Homo sapiens: one gene and its partner. The protein of the gene in region 1 purifies or fractionates together with the protein of each later gene. This does not show direct contact. Each region holds a gene or a part of one and is shown on either strand. Other genes may lie near its edges.

The links.
Region 2: the proteins of LRRC75A (region 1) and PRCP fractionate together in Homo sapiens (co-fractionation; one large-scale study listed by BioGRID). This does not show direct contact.

What each region holds. Positions count from the first base shown.
Region 1 is NC_000017.11:16,447,172-16,450,990, reverse strand, and holds part of LRRC75A (leucine-rich repeat-containing protein 75A), read left to right. Parts: intron 1-3,030; coding exon 3,031-3,146; intron 3,147-3,819.
Region 2 is NC_000011.10:82,851,811-82,855,629, forward strand, and holds part of PRCP (lysosomal Pro-X carboxypeptidase isoform 1 preproprotein), read right to left. Parts: intron 1,469-3,819; coding exon 1,367-1,468; intron 1-1,366. UniProt on the Homo sapiens protein: Cleaves C-terminal amino acids linked to proline in peptides such as angiotensin II, III and des-Arg9-bradykinin. This cleavage occurs at acidic pH, but enzymatic activity is retained with some substrates at neutral pH.

The DNA of each region.
Region 1 (3,819 bases):
GGCCCCACATGAGCAGGTCACCCCCCTCCTGCCTTCTCACCCACTTCTTGTCTTGAGCCCCTTGCCTTCTACTCATGTCCCAAGCCCAAAGCCTAGACCCTCCTCACCCTCCCTGCCCACACCTTCTCCATCCAGCATATCAGTCAGCTGTGTGGCCTCTGTCCCCTCAGCCCCTTCCAATAGCCTGGCCCTGAGTCATCCTCTCCACCTCCTGTCCACCCCTCTCTCCATCTCCCAGTCTGAGGAACATCCCCCTTGAGGGACTCCCCTGCAGCCCCCATGACCAGCTCCTCCTGCTTCACCCGCCTTGCTTCCCTCCACACAGTCATGTGGCCAGGTTCAGCAAGAAGCTAAGTCTAGGAACCAAAAGATGTCAGCTCCAGGGGTGGGGAATGAAGCCGTAAAGGCAGATGCTCACCTGCCCCCACATCTGCAACACACAAGAGTGACACACAGGAGTGACAGGTGTAACACACAGGTGTGATACAGGTGCAAGTGGCAGGTGATACAAGCTTATTCATCAGACAGCCAGGCACCAGGAAGCTGGGGGCAGGGGTGGGGATGGGCTGTGAACTGGAGCCCAGGGGCCTCCTCCAAATCCGTTCTGTTCAGTCTCGGGCCCTCCTTTGCTTCCTGGGTCCCTCCACAGATGCCTCTCTCCTTTGGACATTCAACTGCCATCTTCCCAACTCCTCTCTCTCTTGTCCCCCTTCCTCAGAGTCTCCTTCTCTTGCCTTCCCATCAGCCCCAAGCCCATCCCCAGCCCTCTGGGCCTCAGGCTCCCCCACTGCATAATGGGAATAACGAAAGTATCTACTGCCTTGGGGTGCTGTGGGAATTCCATAACCTTCTTGCGTGATGTCTGGTGTGCAGGGCTGACAGTGGCTTGAACCATGGAGGGACCAGATGTGATCAGGCCCCAGGCCTTCACCTGCCCTCATGTCAGTAACACACCCCACAGCCGCCACATCACCAAGCCCTGCCACAGACTGTTTCCTCCTCACTCAAGGATGCCTCACGTTTTCTTTCTCCATCTGAAATCACTAACCCATCTGCTCTTAAAAGCTGAGCTCAGCCTGGGCGCGGTGGCTCACACCTGTAATCCCAGCACTTTGGGAGGCCAAGGCGGGTGGATCACTTGAGGTCAGGAGTTCAAGACCAGCCTGACCAACATGGTGAAACCCCATCTCTACTAAAAATACAAAAACTAGCCAGGTGTGATGGCGGGTGCCTGTAATCCCAACTACTCGGGAGGCTGAGGCAGGAGAATCACTCGAACCCAGGTGGCGGAGGTTGCAGTGAGCCGAGATCGTGCCATTGCACTCCAGCCTGGGTGACAGAGCAAGACTGTCTCAAAAAATAAATTAAATTAAATTAAAATAAAGCTGAGCTCAAATCTGAGCCTGGGCAGAAGTCATCTTCCCTCCTTGCCCTGCCAGAATTCTCTGTGCTGGTGCCGCTATCACGGTATTCACTTAGAGTGTGCCTGGAGAGCTTGCTGTGGGTTGGGCTCTATTCAAAGCACTGCGCTAGTAGTGACTCATTTAATCCTCACAGAAACTCTTGTGAGGTCTGTACTGTAATCCTTTCACAGATGTGGTTTGGAGCACAGAGAAGTCAAGCAATTGTCCAAGGCCACACAGAACGGGACAAAGCCAGGACTTGAATCCCCACGGTTTGGCCCCAGGTCTTTGCTCTTCACTACTCAATACACTGCTTGTCCACTAGCAGAGGGGTGTGGGAATCGTAATGACAAAGCAGCCTGTTGAGCACCCACTCCAGGCACCATGCTGAGCACTGTGCGTGGTTAACGTGCCGGACCTCCCCACACCGAGTCGTTGGCCACATGTGGGTTTGCATCTGAGTCCAGCGCTTGCATCCAAGCCTCAGCGCTTGCATCCAAGCCTCAGCACTGGCCCACTGGCAGGAGCACGCTTTTGGTCCTCACTCCCTGGAGGGACTCATGCCCTCACCCTGTCCAGCACGAGTTTGGCTCCGGGGACTGTTGGATTGACTTTCCTAGGGATGTAGTTGGAGTCTGTAGCATCTTTCAGCTGCACCATTTAACCCAGTGTCTGCCATAACAAAAAATCACAGACTGGTGGTCTAAACAGCAGACAGTTCGTTTCGCACAGCTCTGAAGGCTAGAAGTCCAAGGCTGGCTGGTGGGTTTCCTTCTGAGGCTCTCTCCTAGGTCTGTCAGTCCCTCCTCCTCCTGTGTCCTCAAGTGGTTGTTCCTCTGCATGTCTGTGTCCTCATTTCTTCTTCTTAGGACACCAGTCATACAGGATTAGGGCCTACTCCTCTGACCTCATTTTACCTTAGTCACCTCTTTAAAGGCCTTGTCTCCAAATACAGCTGCATTCCAAGGTACTAGGGGTTAGGACATCAACTTGTGATTGTCAGCGGGATACAGTTCAGCCCATGACACCCAGGGTTTCAAACTCAGATGCCAACGGGCCTGACAGGAACGCATGTGAATGAACTGCGCTGGGAAAGACTTGGCCTCCTCATTCATTTGTTCTCACTTTTGAGGGAGACACAGGTAAAAATATCTCATTTTCCCCTTTACTATGTGAAATACAAGGACACGAACATTTGTTCATGGCCATATCCTAGCTTCCTAGAACAAGTGCCTGGCTCCGAGTAAGTGCTCAATAAATCTGCTGAGCAAGAGAATGCACAGAGCGGCCCTGGACATTGGGGAGTGGCAGGGATCATGGTGAGTCTTGGCCAGGGGGTCAGCAGGCACTTGGCTCCAGCCAACTTTTGTCCGATCTCCTGGAATCCAGACTTACATAAATCTGTTTTTCAATGCTAGCAACTAATTCACAAAAACTAAAACCATCCTGCAGATCTGTTTGCAGCCACTGCTGTCTGCCTAGGGTGCCCACCCTAGGCCAGCAGAGCAGGGCCTCCCCCAGCTCAGCCTGGGGGAGCTGGGCTCTTACCCGGGAGACAGGAAGCCTGGGGGCTGAGACTGGTGCACCCAGCCACTCAGGGCCCTACCACCCATGGTTGCCTCTGCAGGAAGGCGATGCACTGGGCGCCATGGAGAAGCTGTGCCGGCAGCTGACATACCACCTCAGCCCCCACTCCCAGTGGAGGCGGCACCGGGGGCTGGTGAAAAGGAAGCCACAGGCCTGGTGAGTTACACTCCCCCGGGCAGGTCTATGCCAGGCTGAGTGTGTGTTACAGGGCACCCCTCCCAGGGATGTAGGGAAGGGAAGGGCGGAGTCATGGGGGGTGGTCATAGAAGCTGCCTGAAGGAGGTAAGATGGAAGGAGGATTCCAGAGTGGGGAAACATCTAGAGGGGGACCCTGGTCTGGTGGGTGGGAGGAAGATGTGAGAAATTTCTAATTCCTGGTGTGCTAAAGTGGGCACTCCCAGATAAGCACAGTGTTTGGCTCATGCCTGTAATCCCAGCACTTTGGGAGGCTGAGGCAGGTGGATCACTTGAGGTCAGGAGTTCGAGACCAGCCTGACCAATGTGGCGAAACCCTGTAAAAATACAAAAATTAGCCAGGCGTGGTGGTGCACACCTGTAATCCTAGTTTCTCAGGAGGCTGAGGCAGGAGAATCACTTGAACTAGGGAGGTGGAGGTTGCAGTGAGCAGAGACAGCGCCACTGCACTCCAGCCTGAGCAACAAGCACTCCCTAGTAACTCCTCAGTTATCTCAGATGTCCCCAGGGGGACCCAGACCCCAGCCCTGTCCCTGGTCCATACAGCAACAAGGGGGTTCAGAGTCCCTTGAAGATTGGTAGGGGTTGAGGGGCATGTAGGACACAGAACCTGTGGGCTGTGATAACACCGTAG
Region 2 (3,819 bases), on another chromosome or scaffold:
CTATCTCCTATATATGCCACCTACTCCTTTAGCTTTCCCCCCTCTTCCAAGATGTATGCCTTCTTACCTCCTCTCTCCCTGTCTGTCACTATCCTTTACTTCCAGTTTTTATGGCACTCTGTACAGTTGAGTGCATTTTTTTTCTAATCCTTGCATAATATCTATAATATCCTTCATGCTACTGACATATTCTGTGAGCACACAAAGGGAAAGAAGTATATCAAAAAGAGCCCCTGGCTCCATTTTGCTAACACAGTATCATTTATAGAAACCTAGGAGAGGAAGTTATGTTCTATCTACAACAAGCTAACTGCTTCCCAGTGGTTTCAGGACTTGTCAAGTCCCTTAATCAGATATTTACGCAAAATACCAAGCTAAAGAATAGAATTTCCCATACAGCTCAACAAATATCAGCAAATCATCCCACTTTATATTTATAACACAACATTTTTACTTATTTTTACTATTGTATTTATTTATAATATGAGATAGTAAAATATCCTTTTTAAAAATAAAAACTCCTTTCAAAATAGGCAGCCTAGTAAAGGACTGGCCCCAAGTCCTTCTAGCTGAGAGTTCCCAAAAGCATATGTATACACTGATGGTATTAGGAAGCACACAAACATTTTTAATGGAACATTTATTGCTTCATTTTAGTGTAATTTGTAAAGAATAACCAGTACACAGAGCCCTTGGTTAAGATAATGCTAAGTTTAAAAAGTGAGCTGATTAAAGAAAAATATTAGGTAAATAATAGTACACGTGGCAAATTAATATAGCCAAAGTCACAAGTGTAGTAGTACATGAATGACTCAGTTGAAGAAAAAGTGTCCTGGTTTATTAGGTAGAGTCTGTGACAAAGGCCAAAGCTCCTGTGAGAACAGGAAAGGCTGAAAGGGAATCCAAGGGGCCAGTTGGCCTTAATGCATCATACAGCTTATTTGTCCTTATTTTATTGATTTTATTTTATTAAAAACATCTTATCAGATAAATTTGTTATGCTCATTATATTTTTTCCAGTGGCAGGCTCAATAATTTAAGTGTACGATTTATAAAGCGGAATTGTTTACTGATATTTTTGAAATAATAAAAAGCTCCCTGTGCTGTCTCTGCAGCCACAGAGTAAAATTTAACTTTCTGAGGCACACAGAGTTAAAAACTGATTAACATTAAGAATTATAATAAAATGGCTTAAAAAAAACCCTCAGTCTGTTCAAATTGTATCTAAAAAGAAACTATTAAATATAAACTATTGAGCTTTTAGGCATTTCAAATTTAAGTTATCTCACAGTGGGGCATATAATTTAGAAACTATTCTAAATTGAAAAGAAAAAGCTTGTAACTTTTAAGTAAAAAGTATCTTTACCTTGAATGAGTTGTCACCAAAGGGGAGAGACTCTCCATAGTATCGATGTTCAGCAAACACCAACATAGCTTTCAGTTCCTCAGCCACATCCCACATGAACCCCTAAGAAGAGTTTACAAAATCACAGGATAAAATCAGAATGTGAAAAAAAGTCACTGAACCTTTTGGCAAACCATATGGAATAGATGTTAAGCCAGAACAAAAAGAGCACTCTACAAAGTTGCACAATTTGTGTTTGTTCCACAAATAAATGACATAATTGATGTCTTATTGTTGCATATCAATCTCACACTTTATGAGTGAAACAATTAAAAATAATCCCAGGTTGCTCATCCACTAGTCATCCACGTCTTTTTATCCTGACACTCTAGCCCTAGCATCAACATTATGTCTAAAATGGTCTTCATGTACAAAGAGCCAGTACAAATCCTACTGAAATTATTTTTAAATAAGGACGAGGGCCTCTTCCCTAACTCATTCTATGAAGCTAGCATCATTATGATACAACACCTGGCAGGGACACAATGAAACAAGAAAACTTCGGGCCAATATCCCTGACGAAAATAGATGCAAAAACCCTTAACAAAGCTAGCAAACCAAAATCCAGCAGCATCAAGAAGTTAATTTACCAGAATCATATAGGCTTTATTCCTGGATGCAAGGATGGTTCAACATACACAAATCAATAAACAGAATTCACCACATAAACAGAACTAAAAAATAAAACCACATGATCATCTCAATAGATGCAGAAAATGTATTCGACAAAATTCAACATCCCTTCATGGTAAAAATTCTCAAAAAAGTAGGTATTGAAGGAACATACCGCAACATAATAAAAGCCATCTATGACAAACCCATAGCCAACATCGTACTGAATGGGCAAAAGCTGTAAGCATTCCCCTTGAGAACTAAGACAAGGCAAGCATGCTCTGTCTCAGCACTCTTATCCAACACGGCACTGGAAGTTATAGCCAGTGCAATCAGGCAAGAGAAAGAAATAAAAGGCATCCAAACAGGAAGAGAGGATGTCAAACTGTCTCTTTTCACAAATGATATGATGCTATACCTAGAAACCCCACAGACTCCACCAAAAGACTTCTAGAAGTGACAAAACAACTTCAGTAAAGTTTCATTATCAAATTTAATGTATAAAAATCAGTAGCATGTCTATATACCAATAACAATCAAGCTAACAGCCAAATCAAAAACACAATCCCATTTACAATAGCCACAAAAAGAATGAAATATCCAGGAATACAGCTAACCAAGGAAGTGAATCATCTCTACAATGAGAATTACAAACCACTGCTGAAAGGCATCAGAAACAACACAAAGAAATGGAAAGACATTCCATGTTCATACATAGGAAGAATCAATATTGTTAAAATGGCCATACTCCCCAAAGCAATTTACAGATTCAATACTATTGCTATCAAATTACCAACATCATTTTTCACAGAGTTAGGAAAAAAAAACTATTTTGAAATCCATATAAAACAACAACAAACAAACAAACAAAAAACTTGAATCACCAAAGCAATCCTAAGCAAGAAAAACAAAGCCAGAGGCATCACACTACCTGACTTCAAACTATACTGCAAGGCTACAATAACCAAAACATCAGGTACTGGTACAAAAATAGGCATGCAGACCAATGTAACAGGATAGAGAATCCAAAAATCAAGCCACATGCTTGCAACAACCTGATCTTAAATAAAGTCAACAATAACAAGCAATGGGAAAAGGACTCCGTATTCAATAAATGGTGCTGGGATAACTGGCTAGCCATATGCAGAAGATTGAAACTGGACCCCTTCCTTTCACCATATACAAAAATCAACTCAAAATGGATAAAAGACTTAAATGTAAAACTGAAAACTATAAAAAGCCCAAAAACCCCAGAAGAAAACTGAGGAAATACCATTCTGGACATCAGCCTTGGCAAAGAATTTATGACTAAGTCCCAAAAAGCAATTGCAACAAAAACAAAAGCTGACAAGTGGGACCTAATTAAACTAAAGAGCTTCTGCACAGCAAAAGAAACTATCAACAGAGTAAACAGACCACCTACAGAATGAGAGAAAATATTTGCAAACTATGCATCTGACAAAGGTCTAATATCTAGAATCTATAAGGAACTTAAATTTACAAGAAAAGGGCCGGGCATGGTGGCTCACGCCTGTAATCCCAGCACTTTGGGAGGCTGAGGTGGGCGGATCACAAGGTCAGGAGATCGAGACCATCCTGGCTAACACGGTGAAACCCCGTCTCTACTAAAAATGCAAAAAACTTAGCCGGGCGTGGTGGCGGGCACCTGTAGTCCCAGCTACTCGGGAGACTGAGGCAGTAGAATGGCGTGAACCCGGGAGGCGGAGCTTGCAGCGAGCCCAGATCACGCCACTGCACTCGAGCCTGGGCAACAGAGCGAGACTCTGTTCAAAAAATAATAA